Homo sapiens: one gene and its partner. The protein of the gene in region 1 binds, or shares a complex with, the protein of each later gene. Each region holds a gene or a part of one and is shown in the gene's direction. Other genes may lie near its edges.

Region 1 (16,347 bases):
CCTACGACCTGGGCCGGGTCTTGCTCAGGCCGGAGCTTGAGTGACTTCCCTCAGTCCCTTTCCGGGAGTATCCAGGGTGACCTGCCCTAATCCTGTCTCTGGCCTGGTCCGGGGGTCCTGCCCGGTCTCCCCATTGGTGGGTCTGGCCGCCTGTCCCACCTCCCATCTGTGGTCGCAGCCATCTGGGCACCCCACCTTTCACAGTCACGGAGCGTAGGTTCGACTTTCCCCATGCATAGGGGCGCTGGCCAGCGGAAGGTTGAGGCAGAGAAGAATTTTTGCCTCCCATGGAGGAGCACATATTGGCTGGCTATTAAGATCATTCAGGAAGCAGGTTGTATTTTGTTTTTTCTTGCATCGCCTGTTGCTGAAACCGACCTGTTACATAACTTCACAACTCTTGCCTTGGAAAAGTTGGGTTTGAGTTTTGTTCTTCCAATAAGACAGCAATAATGGCTTTACATAAACGAGTCTGCCACGTTGGAAACTTATTTTTAATGATGTGGATGTTTAGAGAAGGTTACTTAGGTATTTTAAATGGGGGCTTGGGTTGGGAGAAGTATCGGGCATGCATTTCCTGGTCCTGGGCGCTGCTTGCCTGGGGTGGGAGAGGGGCTGGGGGGGTGGCGCGTGTTGCACCGGGGTCCTGGGGAATGTCCTCATCACCCTCTGGATTTCAGGTTGCTTTCACCTTAGGCTTGCTTTGTGCCTGACCTCTCGCTCAGGTTTGTTTTCCTGAATGCTCCGACAGGAAGAAGCTCCGAGGCTTACCTTGGCACAGGTGTCCCTTGGCATATGCTGGTGTTTCAGAACTGGGGGAACCACTCCTTGCTCATCCAGAGTGAGCTCAGACCCTGTCCTTGCATGGGGGGCTTACGTGGTAGTCGATTGAGTCACTCTCGTGGGTAGACCACCCACTTGGGCTTTCTTTTAGCCCCTAATGGAAGCAAAAAACATTTGACTCATTCTAACCCCATATTCCTTAAAATAGAAGGTGGGGTGTGAGGAGAACAGGTGTGCACGTATGGGTGTTTTTTTCAGTTTTGTTTACATTTTGCGAAGGGAGGGAGGGAGAGAGGAGAGTTCTCCTGAAGAAGGGAGTCTGAGCTGCGGAGGCCCCACCTCCTTGTAGTTTTCATGCCCTGTAGACCTTTCTGCTTCCGCAGCTGTGAAATGGGGGTGGCAGTTAGATTTTTATTCCTTTTAAACATAAAGGAAACCTAGATCCATGTGTGAGTCGACTGTATACGCTGTCTGTAATCTGACGTCCAGCCTGTCGGGGAGACTCGGTAAAGATCTCTGTGGAGCAGTGAGCCATGAGCGTGACAGCGCGGATCGGGGGGTTGGCTGGGTGTGAAAGGTAATCATTTTCTTGTGAATCCTTTTAACTGTAGCGAGCATAAAACAGCAAACCTGGGGCAGCCTTTAGTTCTGCTTTTGTTTCTGGCATTCCGTTTGGGATTAATTGTGGGGCATGTCCTTCTCTTTCAGTTGAAACAATTGATTTTTTTTCCTGCACCTGAACACACTGGGCTGTACAAAAGGAGAGCATTAAAACGCTCCCCTGGAGGTAAACATTGCAGTTGAGCTCACTAGAATTCTGACGACATCAGAGGGTTTGTCCTGTGCTACTTGTAATTGACCCAGATGCCCCACCCACCTGTTACCTGTAATTTGGATTTGTTTGTGGGGAATGGGAGTGGTACCCCTTTGCATCACAAGGGGAAGAACGGAATTTGGGGGCAAGGAAGTCTATGAATATCATTCAAGGGAAAGCGGAAGAAAGTTATCTCTTGTGTGAATTGAAGGCAGTGTCTGCTAAGATATTTGGGAAGACTTTCCCTGTTTGTCCTCAGGAGTTGGCCGTGTAACCAGCTGTTAAGTTGGGGGCTCCTGGAAACTCTCATTCTGCTTTTTTAATTTTTATTTTACTGGGGAAGTGGCTATCAGCTGTCAAGTGCCCTGCAGTCACTTTTGCTTAGCGGCTTTATTGAAATAGAATTCACTTGCCACAACATACAATTTACCCATATAAAGTGTACAGTTCGGCGGCTTTTATTTAGTATATTCAGAGTTGTGCAGCCATTACCACAGTAAACTTTAGAACATTTTTGTCACCCCAGAGATAAACCCTGCACCCCTTAGCCCATCCGTCCTACCTCCACAGCCCCTGGCAACCACTCACCTGCTTTCTGTCTCAAGATGTGCCTGTTCTGGGCATTTCACATCAACGGAATCATATCATATATGGTGTTTTGTGTCTGGCTCCTTTCACTCTGCGTGATGTGTGAGAAGTAGCTACAAGGTGAGCTTCGTAGCTGTTCCCTGGCCGAGCATTCAGGAAAATGAACCTGATCGAGGTTCATCCACGCTGTGGTATGTGTCATCATTTCATTCCTTTTTTTTTTTTGAGACAGAGTCTCGCTCTGTTGCCCAGGCTGGGGTGCAGTGGCGTGATCTTGGCTCACTGCAACCTGTGCCTCCCAGGTTCAAGCGATTCTCCTGCCTCAGCCTCCCCAGTAGCTGGGATTACAGGTGCACACCACCATGCCCCGGCTAATTTTTGTATTTTTAGTAGAGACGGGGTTTCACCATGTTGGCCAGATGGTCTTGATTTCCTGACCATGTGGTCCACTTGCCTCGGCCTCCCAAAGTGCTGGGATTACAAGCATGAGCCACCGCACCTGGCCAGCATTTCATTCCTTTTTAAGGCTGAGTAATATTCCATGGGTGGAATGGTCCAGATGGATGGACCATGTTTTGTTTATCTCGTCATCTGTTGATGGACATTTGGGTTGTTTCCACCTCTTGGCTTTTGTGAATAGCACTGCTGTGGCCATGAGTGTACAGGTTTCTGCGTGGATGTGTTTATAGACCTGCTGGGCCGCGTAGTAACCTTGGGTTTAATGGTTTCAGTAACTGCAAGACTGTTTTCCAGTGTGTAGCCACTTTCCATACCAACCCTACCTGAACTGGTTTTGCGCAGTTGGTTTTCCCTTAATGTGTGTTGAAAGACAGTGTGTCCCCACCGGGATGGGAAAGTGGCAGCAGGGGTGACTCCCTGCACTCAGAGCTGGTTCAGATAACACTCCTTTTCTTGTTTATGAAATGAAACTGATATTTATCAAAGCCCTTGAGATCCTGGGATGAAAAGCGCTGACACAGTATTGCCAAGTGTCCTTAAGATACAGGGACAGTTTTCGAGCATCTGACCTTTTCCTGGGCCCTTCTCTGCTGCCACTTCTCCTGCTCCCAGGACAGTGAAGGTAATTTCAGAAGTCCTTTGCATAATAGCTGGTGTTACAAGCCTTTTGGTCTGCCTGGTTGGAATATTTCCTCTTGACTGTAGCTTCTGCCCTGGATCCTCCAAACGGGAACTAGAGTGAAACTCTTAAGAGTTGGAAATACTGCTCAGTATTAAGAAGGAACAAACTATTGATACCTGCAACAACATGGATGTGTCTCATAATAATTACTTTTTTGTATGTGTCATTCATCATATGATTTAATTCATAAAAAAATTCTAGAAATTGCCAGCTAGCCTGCAGCAATAGAAAGCAGACCAGTGGTGGCTGGACAGAAAGGTGGGAAAGGGGAGGCAGGTGACAAAGGGCACAGGAAACTTGGGGGTAATGGACGTTTTTATTATCGTGATTGTAGTGATAGTTTTATGGGTGTTTAAGTACATTGATGTATGTCAGTTTCTAAAATGGCACACTAAACATTTGCAGCTTATGGTATGTCAGTTATGCCTCAATGAAACTGGAAAGAAAAGTCAGGGAGATACCACTATCCACCCATTTTTTTTTTTTTTTTTTTTTGGAGACGGAGTCTCGCTCTGTTGCCTAGGCTGGAGTGCAGTGGCACAATCTTGGCTCACTGCAACCTCCACCTCCTGGGTTCAAGCGATTCTCCTGCCCTAGCCTCTCGAGTAGCTGGGACTACAGGTGTGTGCTACCATGCCCGGCTAATTTTTTGTATTTTTATAGAGGCAGGGTTTCACCATGTTAGTCAGGATGGTCTTGATCTCCTGACCTCGTGTTCCGCCCTCCTCTACCTCCTAAAGTGCTGGGATTACAGCCGTGAGCCACTGCGCCCAGCCTGCCATACTTTTTTTAAAAGGCTGAAAGTGCTACTTGGGTTTTTTGTTTTTGTTTTAAGGCAAAGTCTCATTCTGTCACCCAGGCTGTAGTGCAGTGGCGTTATCATGGGTCACTGCAGCCTCGACCTCCTGGGCTCAAGCGATCCTTCCACCTCAGCCTCCCAAGTAGCTGGGACTACAGGTGTGTGCCACCACGTCTGGCTGATTTTTCTTTTTTTGTAGAGATGGGGTTTTGCCATGTTACCCAGGCTGGTCTTGAACTCCTGGGCTCAAGAGATCCTCTCACCTCAGGCCTCCCAAGTGTTGGAATTACAGAGTGAGCCATTGAGCCTGGCAAAAGTGCTGCCTGGAACTCTCATGCCATACACCTACCTGTGACCTAGCAGAGATGAAGGTGTGTGTACGCAGGGCTGCGCCAAATGCTGACAGCATCTCTTCATGAGAACCCCAAACCGGAAGCAGCCCCAGTGGCCATCAGCAGATGAATGGGTAAACAAAGCAGTGTGTACATCCAGTGGGAAAAATGTGTGCCTATTGGTTTGAGTTGCTTTTCTTAGCTCACCTGAAAGTATGAGGTCTGTGGGTAGGTACAGACCTTTTAGGCAGCAACACGCATGTTTTTGTGCAGGTGCTCTGGGTGACCTTGTAGATAGATGCTGCTTGGTACTGGTCCCACTTTGTTCCTTCATCCTCAGGTCAGGTCTGCACTGCCTGTTCCGTCTCCACTCCTGGTAGCCTGTGGGAGTCACAGCTGAATAGTCATCTCGTACTGGGATTTTACTCTGAGTGCATGAGTTGTTTCCCTAGGAAAAACATGCTGTCTTTCTGGATCGTAAGGGACAACTAGCTAAAGCTCCTAGCCGACCTGTCGTCCAGCCCTCACTCTCCTCCTGCCAGACTTCTCTGTATTGCCTCCACTTCTCTGAGTGTGTAAACCTGGGCTCACTTTTCCTTTTGAAGTGGTAAAATACTCAGGATAGAAAGTTGCTACTTTGTCTTCAAAGCCATTGTCCTGACCTATCCTTGACTGTCCAGGTGAACACACCATCTTCTGCTGAGCCCTGAGATTATGACCAAGGCGGGGTGAGTTCCATACAGTCTTGGGTTCCGAAAAGTGGTGAGTTTAAAATCTGCACATGTAGCTGGGCACGATGGCCCATGCCTGTAATCCCAGTACTTTGGGAGGCTGAGGCAGGCAGATCATTTGAGCTCAGGAGTTTGAGACCAGCCTGGGCAAAATGTCCATGATCGCACCACTGCACTCCAGCCTGGGTGACAGAGTGAGACCTTGTCTTAATAAAAAGAAGAAAATCCAGGCCGGGCTTGGTGGCTCACGCCTGTAATCTCAGCACTTTGAGAGGCAGAGGCAGGTGAATCACCGGAGGTCAGGAGTTCCAGACCAGCTTGACCAACATGGAGAAATCCTGTCTCTACTAAAAATACAAAATTAGCTGGGTATAGTGGCACATGCCTGTAATCCCAGTTACTTGGGAGGCTGAGGCAGGAGAATCGCTTGAACCCGGGAGGTGGAGGTTGCGGTGAGCTGAGATTGTGCCATTGCACTCCAGCCTGGGCAACAAGAGCAAAACTCCATCTTAAAAAAAAAAAATGCTCATGACTTCATTTTGGCTTTTTGAATCCTCTGGTAGCCCAGGTGTGGTTTTAGGGTGCCAGAACATTGGAGATAAGATGCCGTTTACCTGGAGGAGTGTTGGCAAGTGTTTGGTCAGCACTTACCCCTTAGTAGACTTACTGAGTGTGTTTTCAAATTGTTAGGAGTTTCCCAGTGATTATGTGAAAGTGACCTGAGCTGACACTTTACAGTTAGTGGTGAATACACGAAACAATTTCTATTTTTATCACAATTAATTACCCGGATTCAGGATGACGGGGTGGGGGATTATGACTAATACTATACCAGGACTAACTAAAAAAAGAGTTCCCTCTCAGCCTAGCTACCACCACCACAAAAGCTTACCACCATCAGCTACCACCACATTTCTCTCATTGCTTGATTGAAGTCTGATGACCTACCAGGGAACCCCCTTCTTTTCTTTTTAGACGGAGTCTCGCACTGTCGCCCAGGCTGGAGTGCAGTGGCGCGATCTTGGCTCACTACAACCTCTGCCTCCCGGGTTTAAGTGATTTTCCTGCCTCAGCCTCCCGAGTAGCTGGGATTACAGGTGCGCACCACCATGCCCAACTAATTTTTTTGTATTTTTAGTAGAGACGGGGTTTCACCATGTTGGCCAGGCTGGTCTGGAGCTCCTGACCTCAGGTGATCTGCCCACCTTGGCCTTCCAAGGTGCTGAGATTACAGGCATGAGCCACCACACCTGGCCCCTTTAAGTATAGAACTTAGTGCTGTTTTAGTAAATTTACGGAATTGGGCAGCCACCACAGCAGTGCCTTGCTGTCTCTGATTTCTCTTTCGCTCCTTTCCGCTCCCTCCCCACCACCCCTTGTCAGACCCTGTGCTCATGCCCAAGGTCACCCGTTAGGGAGGTGTGTCCACCGCCTCAGACTGAGCCCTGCCCTGGGGAGGTCAGAAACATGGCCAAGCCCTGGCCCCATGCTCCCCCGCCTTTAAGCCCCGTGTCTGTTAACTTTTGCACCCTCTGCGAGCTGCTGGGCAACCTCTTCAGCCTGGCCCTGGACTTCAGCCATCCCCTGCTGTTTTCTTACTTCCTGGCCTTGCTGTGCTTGTGGGACTGAGGGCAGTGAGGCCAGCAGAGGGAGAGTGAAGCCTTTGACCCCCGCGGTTGCACTGTTAGAAGACAGCACATGCCGCCTGGCCAGGGTGCTGTGAGGGCCCCAGGAGTAGGAGTGGGCTCCCCTGCTAAGGGAAAGCCTGTGGGAATGGCGCCTCTGGAGTTGTTCAGAAGCTGTACCTGCCAGGCAGAGGGGTGGGCACAGCACTTTGCCTAGAAGGAGGGAGGGTGGATGTGGGGCCAGTGGGGCCAGGGCAGGGGCTGGGCTGTGTCCTGGAGCCTTTAGGAGCTGCTGGGGTGCCTTGACCAAGGCTGGGAGGAGGGCTCTGAGATGGCAGTGGCGGGGGTTAGGGGAGGGGCTGTGGTGTTGGAGGTTGGGCATTGTGGCCCAGGTTGGACCCCGAATGGATGGAGGGGCCACAGGGCAGTGGAGACGGAGGACACCGGGATCAGGGCTGTGTGTGTACATGTGTGTATGCATGAGTAAGTGTGTAAGTGTGTGTGCCTGTGGGAACTGCCAGGGTACCGGCTGCCCCCTCCCAGTCCTCACAGGGAGCCACAGACTTAAAAAGCAGCTCCAGCTCCTGCCTGTGGTCTCATCAGGGTCCATAATTCCCCAGGCTGAGCCGGGGCTCTCTCCGCTGGGGAGGCACCGTCCTGAGGGCCTTGTGAGAGGGAGAGGCCTCCCCAGAGCGGCTGCAAGGAAGCTAAAGGGCACATGCTGGGCAGCAGCTCACAACTGAGGGGCAGTTTGTGCTTGTCATGGTGGTGAGAGTGCTTTCATGGTGGTCGGGATAGTCTAGCTTGGCAGAGAAGGGCCGTGACACCCAGCTGTGCTCTGTGGCATTCAGGGCCGAGGGGCCTGGCTGGAGGGGCTGGTGGGAGGAGTGGGTCCGGGCCCTGGCACCAGTGCTGTTCGGGGCTCCGGAGGGTTCATGGCCTTGAGCTCTCCTTGCTGGAGCACATACCTATGAGAGCAAAGTTCTGCTTTCTCTGATACATGGAGGGCTGCTGGGTCCTGGAGTCTGGTGGCTGGCAGCAGGTCCTTGTGCCTTTTTCTGTGTTGGTCGAATAGCAGCTTAAGAGCCGGGTAACCCAGCCGGGCTTCTCAGGTCCCGTGGGCCTTTGCCAGGATGGTGTCTAGATGTGTAAAGGTGGCTCGTTGGGCTCTAGAGAGCCCTTGTGACAGTGAGCATGGCATCTTCCTGAAGCATCAGCTCCTTGCAGAGCGAGTGCAGGCTCCTGGCGGCCCTGGGAGAGGGGGTTGCAGATCCCAGGCAGAGGTGTTTGGTCAGAGCTGCGCTGCCTGCACCGTCCTCACCTCTTTTTCAGTACGGGGATCCATGCGCATAGCTTGCAGCCCTGCTGCATCCTCCGTGTAGAAACGTCTACGATGAATTCTCTAACATACAAGAGCTGGTGAGCCCTGTGCCTCCGTCTCCCTGATGAGACAGTTGTGAAGGTTTTCTTCTCCCTGTTTTCTTTTTTTTTCTTCACTGGTGTGTGTTTTTAAAGCAAGTCTTTTGTGTCCTTTCACCTTTGTGTCTGAGGTGGAGCCCTGTGAATTGGCGATACTCAGCCATTTTGACCTGCAGTATGTAGTATGCATTTCTAGAAGCAGAAAAGGGCGCCTGTCCTGAATAGCTGCAGCGCCGTTATCACACAAGCAGCGTCAACAATGGCTTTTCACGATTGTCCGATATGTAGGGACAGTTGGCCTCTCTCCACAGCAGATTCTTTACTGGGATCCTGGAGGTCCGCTGTTGAGATGATGGCTGTCTCTGGGCCCTGCGTTCCGAGCGGCCTCTCCCGCTGCTTTTCATCTCGCCAAGCTGCAGTCTGGCCTGGGTTGTTGTCCTGTGAGGTGTGCACCTTCTGGACTGAACCCCTCATTGTCACACTTCAGCTTCTTGCTGAAGGTGTGGAGTGGATTTCATCTCAGGCTGTGGGCTCCAGGGAGAGTGGCTGATCCCCGGGCTGGGAAGGCAGGGGCGGCCTGAGGTGAGCTGGGGATGCCTTGCACACTCGGCCCGTTGAAATGAACCTCACGCGGACTCTAGCACACCTGGCTGGAACAAGGGTCTGCCGGTCCACACAGGTGCCATTGGTGAGAGGGGAGGCGAGAGGCCCTTTCTCTTTGGGAAGAACGAATGTGAGCCTAGGCAACATATTGAAAAATTAAAAAACTTTCTAGGCATTGTGCACACCTGTAGTCTCAGCTACTTGGGACGCTGAGGCAAGAGGATCTCTTTTAAGTTCAGGAGTTTGAGGATGCAGTGAGCTATGATTCTACCACTGCACTCCAGCCTGGGTGGCAGAGCAAGACCCTGTCTCAAAAAAATAAAGGAATGGAGAGCCTGGGGACCGCTGTGTCGGGTGGTGGGACTATGTGAAAGATGGTCAACTCCTAGCAGTTTCACGTGGTTCAAACTAATAGATTAAAGGTGGCTAAAGAGACATCACAAATCACGTGCAGTCATTAACTGGGACTTGGATTCTTAAAAACCTGTAAAAGACGTTATGAAGACATTGGGGTGATGGGTGAATGTGTATTAACCAACAGTGTGGCAGGCTGGGTGCGCTCATGAGCCAGCTGTTTTGTGGGGATGTGGAGAAAGCCCTCCCCTGGGGCCGGCCACTCTGAAATGGGTCAGGAAGAGATAAGTGTGTGAGAGCAAGGGGAGTCGGAGTGCAGGGGGATGTGATGGAGAGTGTCCAGCTGGAGGGGTGTGGGGGTCGGATTTCTGTAGCTTTGGAATTTTTCAAAATAAGAGGAAATATCAGGGCAGAATCCTTCCAGTTTGGGGGCCAGACCTCCTGGCAACCCTCTGCCTTGAGAGGGCTCAGAGACCCTGCAGCTTCTTGGCAGTCATCACTCTGAGGGTGTGGTGAACTTCCTATTCCCTCCCCTTTTTTTCCTTTACAATTTTTTTAATTAAAAAAAATTTGGGGGGGTGCTGGGTGCAGTGGCTCACACCTGTAATCCCAGCATTTTGGGAGGCCAAGGTGGGTGGATCACCTGAGGTTGGGAGTTCGAGACCAGCCAGACCAACATGGAGAAACCCTGTCTCTACTAAAAATAGGCGTGGTGGCGCATGCCTGTAATCCCAGCTACTTGGGAGGCTGAGGCAGGAGAATCGCTTGAACCCGGGAGGCAGAGGTTGCGGTGAGCCGAGATCGCGCCATTGCACTCCAGCGTAGGCAACGAGAGTGAAACTCCGTCTCAAAAAAAAAAAAAATTTAAATAGAGATGGGGCCTCACTATCTTGCCCAGGCTATTCTCAAACCCTGGGCTCAAGATCCTCCTGCCTTGGCCTCCCAGAGTGCTGGGATTACAGGTATGAGCCATCACGCCTGGCCTCCTGCCCTCTCTTTTATTTAAGCCTTGGAATTAGAGAATCAGGAATGAGCTGCTTTGCCTTTTGAGCTTGGCCTTTAGCCAACAATGTTGAGGGCCTCCTGGGGTGCAGGCTCCATCTAGGTGCTGGGCTCATGGCAGGGAGCAGGACAGACAATGCCCCACGGGGGCCTTGAGGTGGGGTCAGAGGATGCCTGCCTGAGAGGCACCCTGTGGACCTCACCCTGAGGCTGAGGGAACAGCAGGTGCAAGGCCTGGGTGCTGGCAAATGCAGACAGTGGTGCAAATGTTGGAGTAGATGTCTGCGGCCTGAGAGTTTATGATGGCACATTTGGGGGGATTTTTGAGTTTTTGAATTTCTGTGGTTTTCGTCTGTGGGAATGAAGTGACTTTCTTTGTTTTTTTTTTTTTTTTTTGAGACAGAGTCTTGCTCTGTGACTCAGGCTGGAGTGCAGTGGTGTGATCTCGGCTCACTGCAACCTCCGCCTCCTGGGTTCAAGCGATTCTCCTGCACGGGGATTACAGGTGCGCATCACCATGCCCAGCTAATCTTTTGTATTTTTAGTAGAGATGGGGTTTTGCCATGTTGGCCAGGCTTGTGTGTGTGTGTGTGTGTGTGTGTGTGTGTGTGTTGTTGTTAAGAGAGACAGGGTCTTGGTCTGTTGCTCAGGCTAAAGTTCAGTGGTACCATCATAGCTCACAGCGGCCTTGACCTGCTGGGGTCAAGCAATCCTCCGGCCTCAACCTCCTGATTAGCTGGGACTACAAGTGTGCGCCACCACACCTGGCTCGTTTGTGTATTTTTTTGTGGAGACAGGATCTTGGCTGTGTTGCCCAGGCTGGTCTTGAGAACTCCCGGGCTCAAGCGATCCTCCCAAAGTGTTGGGATGACAGGTGTGAGCCACCATTCCTAGCCTTGAAGTGACCTACTGTTGTGCTGCCCTGATGCACGGTCTGAGTTCTGGAGCATGTCTCTGGGCAGAAAGCCCCTGTACAGCTCTTAGATGGACTTCCAGGATGTGGTTTTAGTCGTAGCTAGGTTCACATCCAGAACTAAAGGAGTTAGAGACTCCAGCTCTGGGGCCTCGTGTATGACTAGGAAGTGGGAATTCTAGGATACGTCTTTAAATACTGTGTCCAGAGCAGAGGTGATGGGAGGAGCTGCTTTTTTTGGGGGCCGGGGGGGGGTTTGGGTTTTTCTTTTTTCTTTTTTTTTTTGAGATGGAGTTTTGCTCTTGTTGCCCAAGGTGGAGCGTGCAGTGGCACGGTCTCAGCTCACTGCAACCTGCGCCTCCTGGGTTCAAGCAATTCTCCTGTCTCAGCCTCCCAAGTAGCTGAGATTACAGGCACGTGCCACCACGTCCAGCTAATTTTTTTTTTTTTTGCCTTTTTAGTAAAAACGAGGTTTCACCATGTTGGCCAGGCTGGTCTCGAACTCCTGACCTCAGGTGATCCGCCCTGCCGAGGAGCTGCTTCTTGGTGAATGCCTGGGATGGGTACAGGGAGGCCTTGCCCCTCCAGAGCCTCCCTGGTGAGGGGATAAGTTGACAGCCTCAAAGGACTTTATTGGAGTGGCAGCTCTGTGCCAGCTGAAGATGATGACCCTCTTGTCCTTCACCCATCATGTCCCCTGGCGTGGGCTGTGGAACTTCTCTGTGCCAGGCACTGTCCCCTACTGCTGTTTTACCTCATTTCATGATAGTTCCTAGGGTCAAATATATTTTTGAAATTAATGTTTTATCTTGAAACTTTTCAGAGAGTGAAGGGAGAAGTTAACCCAGAAGTCAGCTTGTGTTGTGACCAGATCACTGCAGGGCAGCATTGGGCCCAGTGTGCATCTGTGCGTGCAGGTAGCACGTGCCCATGCACCCCAGCCAGGCGGGCTGGAGGGGCCTCTGTGGGGTGCTGCTCCCCATGAGCACCTGTCCCTAGGCTCGCACAGGTGCTGCATCACACAGCAAGGGCATTAGGCCGAGGGGCTGTCTGGGGTGCTGGGACTGGCAGTGGGAGATTTGGTGCCGTCCCTAGGGGAGCTCCCATCACTCCTCCCTGGCCCTTAATTTTGTGCCACCTTGTGTTCTGCCATGACACAGTGCTCCCGCTGCCTGACCCCGTGGTGGGGTTAGGTGGCCTATGGGGGCCATGCCAGGGACTGTTGGCCATGTCATTTGAGGTGCTGGTACTTGGGAGTGGCATGAGGAGCCCCAGTGGCTGTGTGGTCTCCTTGCAAGTGTCCTGTGCAGTTGTGGCCTGATGACTTAGAGCCATGCGCTGTCTGCCTTTGCTGAACATAGAAGAGGCGCCTTCAGTGAGGGTGTGGCCTCGGTTGCCAAGGGTATCTCAGTGTTCAGTTTCTACTTCATCCTCAGGAGAGGGCTGCCTTGAAGGGATGGGGAGGGTGAGGTGGCAGTGGATGTGGCCAGTGACATTTCCACATCTGCATGGGTGGCAGCTTCGTAGTGTTTGATGAGCCTTACACTGTGGTGGGTCTGGCATCATGAAGCTGTCCTCAGGGCACACTGCTGTCAGTCTGTAAAAGTCACCCTGCTCCTTGTGGTCCTCAGTCATGGGAAAGAAGCATCTTCCTAAGCATCCTGGTTGTGGGCATGGACATGGCTCTGTGGCTAGGCGGGGGTTAGACCAGCTGTGTGGGGGACCGGGGGGTGTAGAAGGCCACCAGTGGCCCTTTTTTGGCCAGGTAGGTTTGCTAGAGAAGAGTGAAATCCAGTCAGAACAAGGGAAACTGTCTCAAAGCAGAGATGAGGCCAGGGTGTCACACCAGAGTCATCGAGGCTGGTTCTTCTGCACTGAGTCCTGGAAGCTGCAGCCTCACTCAGGTGACACTGCGTTCTGCTGCAGGTTGGGCCCGAAGGCATCCTGCAGAACGGGGCTGTGGACGACAGTGTAGCCAAGACCAGCCAGTTGTTGGCTGAGTTGAACTTCGAGGAAGATGAAGAAGACACCTATTACACGAAGGACCTCCCCATACACGCCTGCAGGTGAGCTGAGCTCAGCTGGGCCTGGGCATGTGCTGGACAGGTGGGTGCCTCTGGCATGGGCCTGGGACACTCACCTCCCAGGTACAGGGTGGCGCCCTTGTGCTGTGACTCTGGGTGGCGGTGTCCTCGGGAGTAAGGAAATTGCTCAGGCCATGTGCACAGCCAAGGCCTGTTACCGGTCAGGAGGTGGGCTCAGCAACCTCCGACACCCTGAATTCACCAGCTGGTGGGAAAAGTTTTCCTTCCTTTGGCCTCCTCAGACCCTGGGGGCATTGCCTGGTACCTGCGCACTCACTCATAGAAAGAATTTGTCATGGCATTGGGTGAGCATCTGGGGTGGGAGGGTGAGTGGAGCAGCTGAGATACCCTCACAAAGCAGTTGCTGCAGGGTTCTGGGGCATCCCTGCCTCCCGCTGCCTTGGCCGTGCCTGGAGAATTGGATGTGAAGACAGTAGTTAGTGGATAGACCTGCATGTTGACAAATTTAGAATTCTCATCTCGAGTGGGATCGTCCCTTGTTGAGGCTTATTTCTGTATTTTTGTGACACACAAGTGAGGAAATGTAGATTAGAAGAGGGGAGAAGGTTTTGGCCAGGCACGGTGGCTCACTCCTGTAATCCCAGCACTTTGGGAGGCCGAGGTGGGCAGATCACGAGGTCAGGAGATCGAGACCATCCTGGCTAACACGGTGAAACCCTGTCTCCACTAAAAATACAAAAAATTAGCCAAGCATGGTGGCGGGCGCCTGTAGTCCCAGCTAGCTACTTGGGAGGCTGAGGCAGGAGAATGACATGAACCCGGGAGGCGGAGGTTGTAGTGAGCCGAGATCGCACCACTGCACTCCAGCCTGAGCGACAGTCACGGCAGGTTTGGGCCTGAGCCCTGCCTCTGTCTGTGGGCACCCACTTGGGGCCCTCCCTGCAGCTCCTTGCCCGCGTGCTGCCCAGCGCTCCGGGACTGAGGCTGCTCTTCGCTAGGCTTGGTGGGCAGGCACTCTTTCCTGCATCTCAGCTCTTCACTCATTCTCATTTACAGATGTTTTCGTGTATGTAATTGTGTTCTCTTAACACACAGAGATGGCCATAAGTCCTGGTGCAGCTCTGGGGAGCTAGTATTTTTGGGTTTGGTATGTGGATTTTCAGAAAACCACAGCCAGTGGTGGGGTGAGGCTCTCCCGAGGCTCCTCGCTTGGGCTTCGGGGCCTGAGCTTCAGGGCGCTGCTGCTGCAGGGTCTGTGCCCAGCTCCCTGGGAGCACAGTGCCCTCTGCTGGAGCCCAGAGTTCACCATGACCACTGGGTCTGAGGCTGGATTCCTGAATTTCAGGCCAAAGAACGGGGACTAGAATGGCCCTGGAGGAGTGAGGCCTCCTTCCAGCAGGACTCTCCTTGGAGGTGGCTTTGCTCCTTATCCCCTCGGAGCTTCTGCCACATACCCCTTCCCTGCATTCTTGGATTTGAGAAGCCCTGGTTAACTGGTTTGATTTGGTTACTGGGATTGTTGGGGTTGAGTATGTGTTTAATGAAGAACTTAAAAATGTTGTCAGAGGAAAGAATTTCACATCTTGCCAAATGAAAACCAGAGAGCAAGCTTCCAGCTGTAACTGTCGCTGTTTTGATTTTTTAGTTACTGTGGAATACACGATCCTGCCTGCGTGGTTTACTGTAATACCAGCAAGAAGTGGTTCTGCAACGGACGTGGAAATACTTCTGGCAGGTAGATAATCAGACCATGCATGTGTGTTTAATCAGTGCTGTGCTCAGATTTGTGTGTAAATTATGGAAATGTTGAAGCAAAGCGTAATATAAAATCACGCTAACAAACCTGGGTTTTTTCCTCCTCTGTGACTGGTTTAACTTGAAACAGATGGTGGTGTGTGAATGCCTTAATGTATTTACCCTTGATTTATTCTCTGTGGCTCTTTTTATTATGCAAGTAGGGTTGGCTTAATTCTCCTTCCCAGTTTTTATTTCGATTTTTCTGCAAGATGAGCTCTTGGCACACCCGCTGATCTTCATTAACGGGAGGATGTTCCCAAGGCAGTAACGGGCATCCAGGGGCGCTGGTTCCTGAGCAAGCTTGCTCTGGCCTGAGCTCATCGGAGCTGTCCGGAGGCTAATTCAGGCCAGATCCTGAATCATCGGCTTCAATTAAGTTCACTTGACCGTCGGCGCTGGGCTTGCCTTCCTGATGTTGATCAGCTGCAGCTGGACTGTGTCGCTTGTTCTGTGTTTGGGACAGGACAGTGTTCTCCCAGTGCCCAAATTCCAAGGGGGGAGTTCGATGGTCTTGCCCGAGTGGTGGGACTCTCGTCCTGGTGGGTCCCGTGCTAGCGGCTCCCCTTCCCCTCCAGGTTGCTGTGTACAGGTCACTCCACTGCTGGAGAGGATGGAGCAGAGCCTGGGAGGCAGAGCTCCGAGGTGCTAGCAAGGAAGTGTGGGGTCTTTTTCTGAGGTTCACGTTCTGGAGAAAGAAAATGACCAAAGCCCGGAGGCAGGCTTACTTGTGCTGACACAAGCCCCTCCTGTGCCTTTGACAGCTGTGGGTCTCGGAGGGTTACAGATGGAGCAGTCAGATCTCGTGGCATCTCTGAGTTAGTAACTTGAAATATGGTGTTATGAGCAAGGCCAGAAAGGGGCTGCTGTTTTTAAAAGATTTTAAAGAAGGGTATCTTCTGGATAACCAAAAGACATTCTTGTCCCATTTTCAGAATCTTCTGGGTAATTTAAGTGTTGCTATGTTTGCATTTAGTTCCTCTTGTTCAGGAAAAGCAACTAAATAAAACTTCTCTTAGCTGGCAACCCCAGCTTCCGGTCAGCATAGCCAAGAACAGGGAAGTGAGCAAAAGGGCCTCTGAGAAACAACAGGCTTGAGCCAAGCACCACTGAGCATTCTGTGCGAGGCCCAGGGGAAGGTGAGGAAGCAGCCGCTGGCCCTTAGGGATCTTGGCTGTGACAGGGTGAGGATGCATGAGAAGACACGGAGACAGCTGATTCTGCCCACGTGGCCGGCAGGGCTCCAGAGTGGAGTCGGGCTTTGGAGATGCTCAGAGTGGCCATGGCTGGTTAGAGAATCCTGGGCCTCGTGGCAGGGAGAAGGGTTAGAAGATTAGCTGAGCTGAAGCTTTTGGCAAGAATGGTTTTCCAGAGGGGAAGAGAGAGGGCGCGGTGAGGAAGGCT
Region 2 (7,000 bases), on another chromosome or scaffold:
AAGCTATAGTAGTGCCTAGTTTTGGAATATTCAGAACCATGATTCTTAAGAGAGTCTTTTTTTTTTTTTTTTGAGACAGGGTCTTGCTCTGTCACCCAGGCTGGAGTGCAGTGGCCTGGTCTTGGCTCACTGCGATCTCTGCCTTCTGGGCTCAAGTGATCCTCCCGCCTCTGCCTCTTGAGTAGCTGGGACTACAGATGCATACCACCATACTTGGCTAATTTTTGTATTTTTTGTAGAGACGGGGTTTTGCTGTGTTGCCCAGGCTGGTCTTGAACTCCTGAGCTCCTGGGAAAATTTCAGATATATGCAAAAATAGAATAGTATAGTGAACTAGTCCCCCATCTACCTAGCATCAATAATTACCCACTTTTTCCCCCTGGAGTATTGTAGAGCATCATAGCATTTACCCATAAAAACTTCGATATATAAGTGTTTTCAATGCAGCTGAAAATTGAGTTATTTAATGTATGTACATACTTTCTTTTCTTTTCTTTCTTTTTTTTTTTTTTGAGACAGAGTTGTTTCACTCTTGTTGCCCAGGCTGGAATGCAATGGCGCGATCTCGGCTCACCGTAACCTCCACCTCCCAGGTTCAAGCCATTCTCCTGCCTCAGCCTCCCGAGTAGCTGGGATTACAGGCATGTGCCACCATGCCCGGCTAATTTTTGTATTTTTAGTAGAGACAGTGTTTCTCCATGTTGGTCAGGCTGATCTCGAACTCCTGACCTCAGGTGATCCACCCGTTTTGGCCTCCCAAAGTGCTGGGATTACAGGCGTGAGCCACGGCACCCAGCCTTGTACATACTTTCTTAAAATGTACTTTCACTGCTCATTTTGTATTTGTGTGTTGCTGGGAGACTTCAAAGAGATACTCAACTGTCCATGTTCTCAGTGATAGAGGCCACCTTTCTGTTAATATATTGTAGCTTTTAATGGAAAAATCAAATAATTATCTTATAACTCAGGGGTGATTATCTCAGAAAGATGAAAATGTACTTTTTTAGAGATTTATAGATATGCGTATAACTTTTTGAGACAGGGCTCACTCTGTCACCCAGGCTGGAGAGCTATGGTGTGATCATGACTCACTGCAGCTTCAACCTCCTGGGCTCAAGCGATCCCCCCGTCTCAGCCTCCCAAGTAACTGGGACTACAGGCATGTGCCACCATGTCCAGCTAATTTTTAAAATTTTTTTGTAGAGATTGGGTCTTACTATGTTGCCCAGTCTGGTCTTAACTCCTGGGCTCTTCCCACCTCAGCTTCACAAAGTGGAGATTTAAGTTATGTGTTTTGTTATCTCAAAAACTTCAATAAACTTCAAAATCAGATTGTTGCCCCTCACTCGTGCCTATTTTATTACTTCTGCAATTTAAACTTGTTCTGTCTTTTTAGTGGAAAAATAGGTATATTTGTTTTTGGTTATTCTTTTCAGTATAAACTGAGTCTACTAGGTTTTTATTAAGTTTCTTATTTGATAGTTGTCTTCTGGTTCCTTTCCAAATTTTCTAAATCACTTGAATTTTTAAGAGCCCAAACATAGCAAGGTACTTTGTTAAAGGTTTGGCTAATGTGCTGAGGATGGAAAAACAATATCTAACATTGCAAAACTGTTTTGTTTTTTTTTTTTTTTTTGAGATGGAGTCTTGCTCTTTCGCCCAGGCCGGACTGCAGTGGCACTATATCGGCTCACTGCAAGCTCCGCCTCCCGGGTTCATGCCATTCTCCTGCCTCAGCCTCCTGAGTAGCTGGGATTACAGGTGCCTGCCACTGCGCCCGGCTAATTTTTTGTATTTTTAGTAGAGACGGGGTTTCACTGTGTTAGCCAAGATGGTCTCGATCTCCTAACCTCGTGATCCACCCGCCTCGGCCTCCCAAAGTGCTGGGATTACAGGCATGAGCCACCGTGCCTGGCCTTTTTTTTTGAGACAGAGTCTTGCTCTGTCACACAGGTTGGAGTGCAGTGGCATGATCTTGGCTCACGGCAACCTGCGCCTCCCGGGTTCAAGCAATTCTGCTGCCTCAGCCTCCTGAGTAGCTGGGACTACAGGCGCGTGCAACCATGCCCTGCTAATTTTTTGTTATTTTTAGTAGAGATGGCGTTTCACCATGTTAGTCAGGATGGTGTCGATCTCCTGACCTCGTGATCTGCCTGCCTCGGCCTCCCAAAGTGCTGGGATTACAGGCGTGAGCCACTGCCCAGGCCTCAAAACATTTTTAATGCATTCTTTTATAGTGCTAATTATTATTATTATTATTATTATTTTTTGAGGCAGAGTCTCGCTCTGTTGCCCAGGTTGGAGTGCAGTTGGGAGATCTTGGCTTACTGCAGCATCAGTCTCCGACTCCCAGGTTTAAGCAATTCTCCTGCCTCAGCCTCCCAAGTAGCTGAGATTACAGGTGCCCACCACCACGACTGGCTGATTTTTGTATTTTTAGTAGAGACGGGGTTTCACCATGTTGGCCAAGCTGGTCTCGAACCCCTGACCTTAGGTGATCCACCCGCCTCCCAAAGTGCTGGGAGCCACCACATCTGGTCTTGTAGTGCTAATTCTTTAAATAATTCTTTGTGTATAATTGTTTTTTTTTCTCTTTGCCCATTGCTTTTATTTGTTTCACATTTTACATCCTTCCCAAACATACTATATTTTTCACAGTAGCATTATATGTCTTACCTAGTTAGCTTGCCAGTTGGCAGAATGATTTTTAATTTTAATCTAGTGTCAGTATCCTCTGCTCTATGACATTTGTTATCGACCTCCAGTACTGGGCTTCTCATTAAGATAATACTTGTTATCGTTAGTCGTTAGTAAAATGTCTTTATGTGTTTTTTTTTTGTTTTTTTTTTTTTGAGACGGAGTCTTGCTCTGTCGCCCAGACTAGAGTGCAGTGTCACGTTCTTGGCTCATTGCAACCTCTGCCTCTTGGGTTTAAGTGTTGTGCCTCAGCCTCCTGAATAGCTGGGACTACAGGTGAGCGCCATCACGCCCAGCTAATTTTTGTATTTTTAGTAGAGGTGGGGTTTCACCATATTGGCCACGCTGGCCTTGAACTCCTGACCTCAGGTGATCTGTCTGCTTTGGCCTCCCAAAGTGCTGGGATTACAGGCATGAGCCACCATGCCTGGCCAGTAAAATGTCTTTAAAAGTAGTGAAAGGCCTTTTGAATCTTGTAGATTGTTATACTTAGATAATTTTTTTCATTGGCTTTTTACTCTTAGGGGATTTGTGTATAATGCTTCAAAATGTAGAGAGTATTTTATTTATTTGTTTGTTTTTATATAGAGAAAAAGAAGAATCCATTCAGCTTCATCAGGAAGCTTGGGAACGACATCATTTAAGAAAGGAACTTCGTAGCAAAAACCAAAATGCTCCGGACAGCCGACCAGAGGAAAACTTCTTCAGCCGCCTCGACTCAAGTTTGAAGAAAAATACTGCTTTTGTCAAGAAACTAAAAACTATTACAGAACAACAGAGAGACTCCTTGTCCCATGATTTTAATGGCCTAAATTTAAGCAAATACATTGCAGAAGCTGTAGCTTCCATCGTGGAAGCAAAACTAAAAATCTCTGATGTGAACTGTGCTGTGCACCTCTGCTCTCTCTTTCACCAGCGTTATGCTGACTTTGCCCCATCACTTCTTCAGGTCTGGAAAAAACATTTTGAAGCAAGGAAAGAGGAGAAAACACCTAACATCACCAAGTTAAGAACTGATTTGCGTTTTATTGCAGAATTGACAATAGTTGGGATTTTCACTGACAAGGAAGGTCTTTCCTTAATCTATGAACAGCTAAAAAATATTATTAATGCTGATCGGGAGTCCCACACTCATGTCTCTGTAGTGATTAGTTTCTGTCGACATTGTGGAGATGATATTGCTGGACTTGTACCAAGGAAAGTAAAGAGTGCTGCAGAGAAGTTTAATTTGAGTTTTCCTCCTAGTGAGATAATTAGTCCAGAGAAACAACAGCCCTTCCAGAATCTTTTAAAAGAGTACTTTACGTCTTTGACCAAACACCTGAAAAGGGACCACAGGGAGCTCCAGAATACTGAGAGACAAAACAGGTGATTTTCAAATGTTTCTCAGAGTTGAGAATTTATTTTGGAGCTCATACTTAAAAATGTTTAAAGTCTTCATGCCACTGAAAGAACTTATGGAAAAGGGCTCCTTACAGGTGATTTCTTAACATTCCAGGAAAATTTCAAAGTAGAACAGTCTGAGTACTCATGTTTTAATGTGAGTCTACGATAGATTTTGTTTCTGATTTTAAAAAAATCTGCCAAGTAGATGGTGATTTTTGCTTTGTGGATGTGTATTCTTCCTGTGATTTTAAATACTCCTTAATAATCAAGGGGTAAAATTTCCTTTTCTGTCACTTAAACTTACCTGCTAATATTTTTCTGTGTGCTTTAACGTTCTCTCTATAACAGGTTTGCTTTCATTGTTTTGTATTTTAAGTTCTTTATGTCACTGTTGCTCTTCTTAAGAAAATGAGTCATTAATTACCAGTGGTATTTCAGATTAGAGTTTTGGGAAATAATGCACAAAATTAGCTGTGAAAAAATTTCTTAAATGCAACTACAAAACTCATTTGTAGGAGTCTTCTTCCTGGGGGCATTCATTTAAAATTCTAAAGGAGGAATGTACTGTGCCTGTGGTAATTGGTGAAAAGACCTGACTTTGGGGCCAATTTTGGTTGTTAAAAGGTATGGTAGACTACTGTGTAGTATTTGTACCTGAGGAGCAACAAGAAGCTAGAAGTTGATGGAGTTGCTAGGCATTAGGTCAATTTCTATGGAGGATGGATTTGGAGGGGGGCTGAGGGAGTGTAGCAAAGAGGTAATAGCCATAGCACGTGGCTGAGTATTAAACTATTTTAATATTTCTACAACTATTTATATTGCATGGTTGAGAATCTGAAATTACTGTTGATCAGAAATTTGTATAGGAGGAGATCCTTTTCTAGTTTCATAAGTCTGTGGTAGGGGAGGAGTGGTTTAAGTAGTTACCACTAGAAGATGATTGACCAGAAGATTGAACAGGAGTAGTGTATGCCAGTAGTACAGTTAGGGCAGGGTCAAGGTAGAGACTGTGGTTAAATCTTTGTGGCTGAAGGTCACTCAGAGGTGAGAATTTAAGACGGCAAAGGTGTTATCAATAGTTCTTTTAGGAAAAAGGAAAAGGCTTATCCTTGTTTTGTGTTTTGATTTGCGAGGACTGGTTTAAACTTTGAAGAGGCAACCTGAGAGTGTACTTGTACCATCAGTAATGGACTAAAAAGGATTATGGTGGTGCTTTATTCATACTTCTCACTTACTTAGGGCTTAATTATGATTTCCATATGCTTTGTCAATTTCATAGTCCTTTGCTCGTACATCCTACCTAATACATCATAACTGATTTGTGAGTATGCTAATAGTATGCTAATGATTGATTAGTTCTTGGCTACTTTGAGGGTGTATGTGTGTGTATTTGCTTTTGATTGGACTCAGAATCTTGGAGAGTGGAGAGATTCTACGATGTTTTAATCCAATCCATTCACCTTTCCAAAGTAGGAATACATTTTTTAGATTATCTAACAGATAAAATTATTTTTCCTCTGAATACTTCCCAAAGGAGCTCAGTTCTCTCGGTGCCATTGCACTGTTGGAAACACTATGGGCTAGGAATTCTTTGTTACATCAGGTGGAAATTTAACTTCCCACAAAATGATTCCCTTTGATTTGGTTCTTTTTTCTGGTATGGATGGAATACAGGTACTTGAAGTAGGAAATCTATGAACTTGTAACCTGTTCACAATTTAATGAAACACAGAAAGTGAGAGTGAGCATTTAGAAATTATTATAGGAATTTTCAGGCTGGAAATGGTGGCTCACACCTGTAATCCCAGCACTTTGGGAGGCCAAGGTGGGTGGATCATCTGAGGTCAGGAGTTTGAGACCAGCCTGGCCAACATGGTGAAACCCCGTCTCTACTAAAAATGCAAAAATTAGCCGGGCATGGTGGCAGGCCCCGGTAATCCCAGCTACTTGTGGGGGACTGAGGCAGGAGAATCACTTGACCCTGGGAGGTGGAGGTTGCAGTGAGCCGAGATTGTGCCATTGCACTCCAGCCTGGAGGACAAGAGCGAGACTTCGTCCTAAAAAAAAAAAAAAAAAAAAAGTTTATAGGAATTTTCAGTGGTCATGGTATTCTTACTATATTTTTACAGAAGTGTCCAGTGGTTGGGGAAGGAAAGGTGGCCCTTTACCACAGATGGTTTGAGGAATACCAGTAGAGGACATATGTGTCCACTTTTATTCCCATGACAGTATCTCAGATATTCAGACTGCCGTGATGTTTCCCTTTTCTCGTCTCCATGTTAAATACCTCCAGTTCTTTCAGTTTGCTCCATGATTTCCAGACACTTCACTACTCTTAGGATACTTGTTTTGGATGCATTCTTTTCTATCTGTGACCTAAAATTGCCTTAGTTTTTATAGCTACCTTGTTGTTCTTTTGGTTTTTGTTAAACTTATTTGCACTGAAGCTTTATTTCTCATATGAACTGCTGACAAGCCACTTCTTCTTCACCTTAAACTAGTGAAATACAATTTTTAAAGCCTAAATGTGTACTTGCATATCTCTGTTAAACTTTATTTAGATGCTTTTTGTATATTATTTTAGCTTTATGAAAGCTTTGGATATTGATTACATGTGTATTATTAATAGTACTGGCAGGGTGCGGTGGCTCACGCCTGTAATGTCAGCACTTTGGGAGGCTGAGGCAGAAGGATCGCTTGAGCCCAGGAGTTTGAGACTAGCCTGGGCAACATGCTGAAACCCCATTGCTACAAAAAATATAAAAATTAGCTGGGTGTGGTGGCATGCGCTTGTAGTCTCAGCTACTTGGGGGCTGAGGTGGGAGGATCAGTTGAGCCTGGAAAGTCGAGACTGCAGTAAGCCATGATCGCACCACTGCACTCTAGCCTGGGCGACAGAGAGAGACCCTGTCTCGAA

Evidence for each region.
Region 2: the proteins of UPF1 (region 1) and UPF2 are in contact, whole or in part, in a crystal structure (PDB 2WJV), measured with the Homo sapiens proteins. Residues at the interface, in NP_001284478.1 of Homo sapiens: Asn150, Thr151, Ser152, Gly153, Val157, Asn158, Leu160, Val161, Arg162, Lys164, Lys166, Pro175, Leu176, Gly177, Thr179, Tyr184, Cys188, Asn190, Val191, Phe192, Leu193, Phe196, Pro198, Asp202, Ser203, Val204, Val205, Val206, Leu207, Cys209; in NP_056357.1 of Homo sapiens: Val1105, Cys1107, Glu1109, Asp1110, Phe1113, Ile1114, Ala1116, Leu1117, Met1120, Met1121, Asn1124, Leu1125, Arg1128, Met1169, Pro1170, Phe1171, Val1172, Met1173, Leu1174, Thr1175, Gln1181, Lys1184, Leu1186, Asn1187, Val1188, Pro1189, Ser1192, Gln1193, Leu1194, Asn1197.

What each region holds. Positions count from the first base shown.
Region 1 is NC_000019.10:18,832,950-18,849,296, forward strand, and holds part of UPF1 (regulator of nonsense transcripts 1), read left to right. Parts: intron 1-724; exon of another isoform or gene 725-739; coding exon of another isoform or gene 740-841; intron 842-13,030; coding exon 13,031-13,170; intron 13,171-14,794; coding exon 14,795-14,884; intron 14,885-16,347. UniProt on the Homo sapiens protein: RNA-dependent helicase required for nonsense-mediated decay (NMD) of aberrant mRNAs containing premature stop codons and modulates the expression level of normal mRNAs.
Region 2 is NC_000010.11:12,025,810-12,032,809, reverse strand, and holds part of UPF2 (regulator of nonsense transcripts 2), read left to right. Parts: intron 1-3,285; coding exon 3,286-4,065; intron 4,066-7,000. UniProt on the Homo sapiens protein: Involved in nonsense-mediated decay (NMD) of mRNAs containing premature stop codons by associating with the nuclear exon junction complex (EJC).